Linked DNA regions of Homo sapiens. The protein of the gene in region 1 interacts with the protein of each later gene in a pairwise test. Each region holds a gene or a part of one and is shown in the gene's direction. Other genes may lie near its edges. The genes, in order: SRI and MORC3.

Region 1 (3,833 bases):
CATCCATACCAGTGCATTTTTAGTGAATACTTCCTATGAGCTAGGTGCTGGCTCTGTAGCCACAATCAATGCCTGGGTGTTGGGAAAAGCACTGGGATAAGAGAGAGGCTGTGGAATCACATAGAATGGGCACATAACCCAGACAGGAGTCAGGAAAGTTTTCCTTGCAGAATTGATACCTAAGCTGAGCAGAAATGAGGCCGACCATGAAGTGAGTGGGATGGGGAAGTTGTGTCCTAGGTTGTTAGAACAGCATGTGCAGAAGACCCAGAAATAGCGTGGTTCAGTCAAGAAATTGAGAAATTCTCCATGAAGATAGTGTACGGGGTTGAACAAGAGTAAGAGATGAGCCTGACTTGCAAAATAAGTGTGTTACCTTATGTACCAGTTAAGGTGCTTGGACTTTATCCTGAGAGCAGTAGATCACTGATACTGGGTTTTGCATAGGAGAGCACATACTACCCCTGACTGTAAAGACTAATAAATTGGGGGACATGGAAGTAAAACAAGAGTCAGGGATGCCCATTAGGGAGCTGCTGGAGTCATACAGGTGAGAGAAATGCTAACTAAGGAGACAGTGGGGCTGGAAATGGACTCTACAGCTGTTTAGAAGGTGATTGATTATTGGTGGAGAGGGAATTGAGGAGGCTCCCAGGTTTCTGGCTTGGGTTACTGCTGAGTGGATGGGGGTGCCATTCATTAACAGAGACAGAGAAGCTGTCTGCCTCATAGCCCCTTCAATACCTTCATGTGAGCCCAACACAGTTGGCTCTGCGCTGTGGTTGTCAGGCCGTCCAGAGCAGTTCTTAAACTTTAGCAGCATTGGCATCACCTGGAAAGCTTACAAAAACCAGATTGCTGGGTCATGCCCTAGAGTTTCTCATTCAGAGGTCTGGAGTGAGTCCTGAGAATTTCACCTCTAACAGGTTTCCATGTGATGCTGGTTCAGGTTGAACCAGCTTCTTTAACATGAATATCTATCACCTGCACATCTGCTAAAATTCAGCTTCTGATTTTATTGGTGTAGGGTAAGGGCTGAGATTCTGCAGTTCTTCAAGCTCCTGGGTGATGCTAATATGGCTGGTCCAGGAATCACACTTTGAGTAGAATGGTGGTCTCAACCTTGGCTGCTCACTAGAATCATCTGAAAAGCTTTTTAAAAATACAAATACCTGGGTCCCACACTCAGAGTTCCTGATTTAATTGTTCTATGGTGCAGCCCAGGTATCAGAATCTTTTAAAGCTTTGATTCAGATAAGCACAAGTGTGGAGAACTACAGCTCCAGATTAGAGGGACTTCATACCTCCACACAACTTAAAAGTCAGAATGAAGAATCTACCAGCTCTTTCCCAAACTGTAAAAAGTGCTTCCTCCTCCTCTCACCTCAGAGAATATTATCTGTGGATCAAATGGAGATTGAAGGACCAAAATAGAAATAGTCACTAGTCTTTTATTTCCAGTAAAGCATATGCCAAACACAGGAATCTATTAAATGTGTAAAACCTATAGTTTGCACTGTTGGGAGACATTACAGTAATGAGCGCAGTTGTGTTTTAATTTCAGTTTGGTTTGAGAAAAAATATGAAGCTACAAAGAGCTGTTAAAAATGTTCTGTGTGTTAACAAGCTTGCAGAATTTATACCAGCTTTTCCCACGTGACCCTTGTCACTTCTGCCATTTAGCGTTGTAGCTTCTTTGTACCTATACAATTTCTTCAGTCATTGATTCCCATTAATTCAATGTAAGAGGTGGTTTTTAATTTCCTAATGCTTAGGTTACCAGTAACCACACCCATTGCATGTGCTCTGGTTTGGTTACATAAGTGAGGTACCAAAATGCCCTCATAATACTCCTAAACTGTAGGTAAATTAAAAAGGCTTCTGAATAGTGGCCACCACTGAATTGGTCATGGGGTCTTATCTAGAGTACTCTTATTTAACACATAATTCTAACAACCATATTTATCTGGTTTCATATATAAGCTAAGAGGTCATAGACTATTTGAGGTAGGAGGTTACTGCTCAGTACCTGACATTGAAGGGAAAATAGAAAAACAAGTAATCAGACACAAAATTAGCAAAACCAGCAATTTATAGTCATTTATGAGTAGGAACAAAGCAACCCTGACTTCCCACCCACCATGTTGGATATAATACATTATGGTTCGTTATGGTGACTTGAACTCGCTATATTACAGTTTCAAAGCAAGAAAGTATGAACAGTACTATGTAATACTTTTTTTTTTTTGAGATGGAGTCTTGCCCTGTCACCCAGGCTGGAGTGCAGTGGCATGATCTCAGCTCACTGTAACCGCCTCCTCCCAGGTGCAAGCAATTCTCCTGCCTCAACCTTCTGAGTAGCTGAGATTACAGGTGTGTGCCACCAGGCCTGGCTAATTTTTATATTTTTAGTAGAGACGAGTTTTTGCCATGTTGGCCAGGCTGGTCTCAAACTCCTGACCTCAGGTGATCCGCCTGTCTCGGCACCCCCCAAAGTGCTGGGATTACAGGCGTGAGCCACCATACCCGGACTATGTAATACTTTTTAAAAGGAATTCTGTCAAAGTTATTTAAATCAAATTTGGGTTCCTAGCAAAAAATCTTCTTTATGGAGAAAAGGCTACTTTGAAGTTCCATATGATTAGTCACACGTAAATTGATAGCATATAAAAATAAAAGTGTATAATAATCATATTTCTAATTAATTTGAATGTATCCAGTGTAATGTGAATTTTTGGATTTGTGTTAATATGTATGTACTTTTCTTGATTTAACAGCTTTTAACCTGGAGACTTGCCGGCTTATGGTTTCAATGCTGGATGTATCCTTTACTTTGATTGTTGTCTAGAATAATTTTTTCTAAAATTCTAAAGGAATTCATCTTAGAATTAATATCTAGTAAACACAAAGTAATAAATGATCACTAAAAAGCTTTCTGAAATAATTAGCTTCTATTATAGGGTGGAATTTGGTGTGAATAAAGGAAGAAAAGAAATTTAGTAAACAGAATGTTGTTCAGGAATTTAAGGAAACATCAGAGTATTATAGAACAAGTACAGAGTCCAGAGTGTCAGGACAGCTTTTTTTCTTTAACATTGATTCCTCTGCAAGTGATGGGATTTTTCACATCCCACTTGTTGGACTGAGTTTAGGTAGTGCTGACTATCCAGTGCATTCCATCCCACCTCATTTGTCTGGGGGCACTAAACAAGGGAATATTAGTACCAGAGATGATGCTAGGACAGAAGGGCAAACAGCATAGCCTGAAGCACCCACAAAGTACAGCCTAGTTCCAGTAACAAGACCGCTTTTTATAAGTGGTTCACAATGGCAACGCTATTTCCTTATAATCAAGTCATGTAAGTTATCTTTTCCCCACAGTAAAAATTGGCACTTGAGCTTTTTCTCCATAGCCCCTTTCTATTTTTAAATCATTAATTTTACATCATACCAAGAATAATCTACAATAACTTTTTTAGCCATTGAATATTGAATTCCCCTTATCCTTGATCTTTCATTTAATCCTTAGAAAATATCGCAAAATACAGCTCTAATCCTTGATTACAGTTCAGAGAGATATGTCTGGCACAATGGGTTTCAATGAATTTAAAGAACTCTGGGCTGTACTGAATGGCTGGAGACAACACTTTATCAGTTTTGACACTGACAGGAGTGGAACAGTAGACCCACAAGAATTGCAGAAGGCCCTGACAACAATGGGTAGGTATGGCTTACTAGAACTCTCCATTCATTGGTAGAAGTAAGTTGATTTTTATTTTTAAAACCAGGCTGGGTGCAGTGGCTCACACCTGTAATCCCAGCACTTTGGGAGG
Region 2 (2,801 bases), on another chromosome or scaffold:
CTTGATTGAGCCCAGGAGTTTGAGACCAGCCTGGGCAATATAGTGAAACCCCATTGCTACAAATAATAATAATAAAAATTAACCGGGCATGGTGGTGTGGGCCTGTGCTTCCAGCTACTCAGGAGGCTGAGGTGGGAGAATTGCGTGAACCCTGGAGAGCAGTGGTGCCATCGCAGCTCACTGCAGCCTTGACCTCCTGGGCTCAGGTGATCCCCCACCTCACCCTCTTGAGAAGCTGAGACTACAGGTGTCGTCACCAAGCCCGGCTAATATTTTGTGTTTTTAGTAGAGTCAGGGTTTCACCATGTTGGCCAGGCTGGTCTCGAACTCCTGGGCTCCAGCGATCTCCCTCCTCGGCTTCACAAATGCTGGGAATACAGGCATGGGCAAGTGCACCTGACTCATAAAAGTGAATTATTAAAGTAAATTGAGTTCTCTAGGGGAGGTTTTGCTTTTCCTTTTGTTTAATTGTATATTATTCTACGGAGATTTGATTTTGATATTTTACTTTTTAAGGTCTACATGAATCTTAACTTGTAATGCTCATCTAATAAGTTACATATTTGTATTTGCAGCCTCAAACTCCGATCTCTTCGAGTTAACGTAGGACAACTGCTGGCTATGATTGTGCCTGATCTTGATCTTCAGCAAGTGAATTACGATGTTGATGTAGTTGATGAGATTTTAGGACAAGTTGTTGAACAAATGAGTGAAATCAGTAGTACTTAAAGTATATGTTATGTAAGATAAAATATTTGCTCAATTCTTTTGGTTGTACAGCTTTCAAAATATAATTAATTTTGTTTTATAGATATGATAGGCAACAGACTGAAAACCATAATCTTTACTGTATTCTATGCATTCAAATGTGGTCACAAATATTGTGGACACATTATCTTATGTTTTGAAATACCTGTGAATTGTTGGCATTGAGCAGCTGAAGCTAACTCATGACTCTGTTTTGAATGTAAATATTTGTAATTAAGCCTGCACATATTTTTTTATTGCCCTAGAGTACTCAAGTGTTTTTCACCAAGAGCTTTTCAGGTTGCCCCTAAGCTTTGTGCAATTTTTTCTGGTTCCCCAAAGTGTATTTTTCTCTAAGTCGAGGGCTATGCCATAATACAAATGGAAATGTTACCTTTGATTTTCTTATAAAGGAGTTTAAATAGGATTTTTAAATAATGTAGTAACACTCCTGATACAACTCTGGTTATAAGTGAATTGAGCATTAATGTTTCTTTTGTATAAATTCCTGTCCTGAAATATTTTATTCATGAAAATAAGGTAAGCAAAAACCAACTCCATTTTGCCAGGATTTTGTTGTGCTGAGATTGCCAATCACGGTTAAACACAAAGTGTTTTTATAGAATGAAGAAACAGTCTTTAACAGAAAAAAGGTATTGAAATATTAAATGGCCACCAAGTTTACTTTGAAGCCCATTTTTGGCTGTTTAGTCAGCATGAAGTGGGCATGATAATTTTTTAATATTTCTTTTTGTGAAATTTCCTGTACAGCCTTTTGTAGGATTACTACAGGTTAATGTGAGTTGAGGAAGACAGTCTTTCTCAAACAATACTACATACCTTTTATTATATTACAAACCTAAGTGTTTTATATCCTAGAGTCAAGGAACAAATTTCCTTAGGATTATAGTATTACATGCCATAAAATACTATGCTTTATTGGTCCCATGTTTTGTGCAATTTTAAAGAGATGGCTTTCTATTAAGTATAAACTATGTATATATAAGAACCATATTTTCCACAACTAAAATGTGCATTATTTTTTCCAAAGTTTTATCATTGCTATTTATTTTTACCTTTGTTTTTGAACATTCAATCCGTTCATTTTGTATGTATGCTTAATACGTGTCGGTCATATACAGTATTGAATTTTTACTGTATAGTAATTCTGGAAAGAGCAAATAAATGAAGATTGTTTTTATTTGCCTGATAAAGTAATTGAAAGTGTATTTTTGGTATGAAGCTGGTTTTCTGTCACAATTGTAATTTCCCAAATTTTAAAATATCTTATAATAAAATAAAAATATATGATGGCTAACTGTTCAAATGCTACTTTTAAAGACTTAATATTAACCTCAAATTATTTTAAAACTAAAAATGTATTCATTAGACCCTCAACTTGAGCTCATTTTAACTACTTTAATTGCAGTTTATTTTTTGAAGACTGTTTCCATTAAGACTGAGGCTGAGCTCCTCTTTCCTCAGAGCATGTATATTCTGTTTTCAAAAGCTTTTTCTCAGCCTGGCGCAGTGGCTCACGCCTGTAATCCCAGCACTTTGGGAGGCCGAGGCGGGCGGATCACCTGAGGTCGGGAGTTCAAGACCAGCCTGACTAACATGGAGAAATGCCGTCTCTGCTAAAAATACAAAATTAGCCGGGTGTGGTGATGCATGCCTGTAATCCCAGCTACTCAGGAGGCTGAGGCAGGAGAATCACTTGAACCTGGGAGGTGGAGGTTGCAGCGAGCCGAGATCACACCATTGCACTCCAGCCTGGGCAACAAGAGCGAAACTCCGTCTCAAAAAAAAAGGACTTTTCTTTGTATAAATCATTTACTCTAGAGAAACCTTGCCTAAATAATAGCAGCTATGTAAATCATATGTAAGTTTTGTGAATATCTAACTCATGCAGTGGTTCTTTTTGGAATTTGCTATTTTTCCCTTCCTTTTGGCCAGCTTCTCTATGTATTCTTGCAAAAATATTTCCTGTAGCTGTCTGGCTTGATGGGAAAATTAATCATGGGATTAGTAAGAGAAACTTGCTTGCTAAATTG

What was found.
Region 2: the proteins of SRI (region 1) and MORC3 interact in a two-hybrid assay, tested with the Homo sapiens proteins (one large-scale study listed by BioGRID and IntAct).

Annotation. Positions count from the first base shown.
Region 1 is NC_000007.14:88,209,870-88,213,702, reverse strand, and holds part of SRI (sorcin), read left to right. Parts: intron 1-2,777; coding exon 2,778-2,821; intron 2,822-3,572; coding exon 3,573-3,720; intron 3,721-3,833. UniProt on the Homo sapiens protein: Calcium-binding protein that modulates excitation-contraction coupling in the heart. Contributes to calcium homeostasis in the heart sarcoplasmic reticulum. Modulates the activity of RYR2 calcium channels.
Region 2 is NC_000021.9:36,374,568-36,377,368, forward strand, and holds the end of MORC3 (MORC family CW-type zinc finger protein 3), read left to right. Parts: intron 1-575; coding exon 576-729; 3' UTR 730-2,065; downstream 2,066-2,801.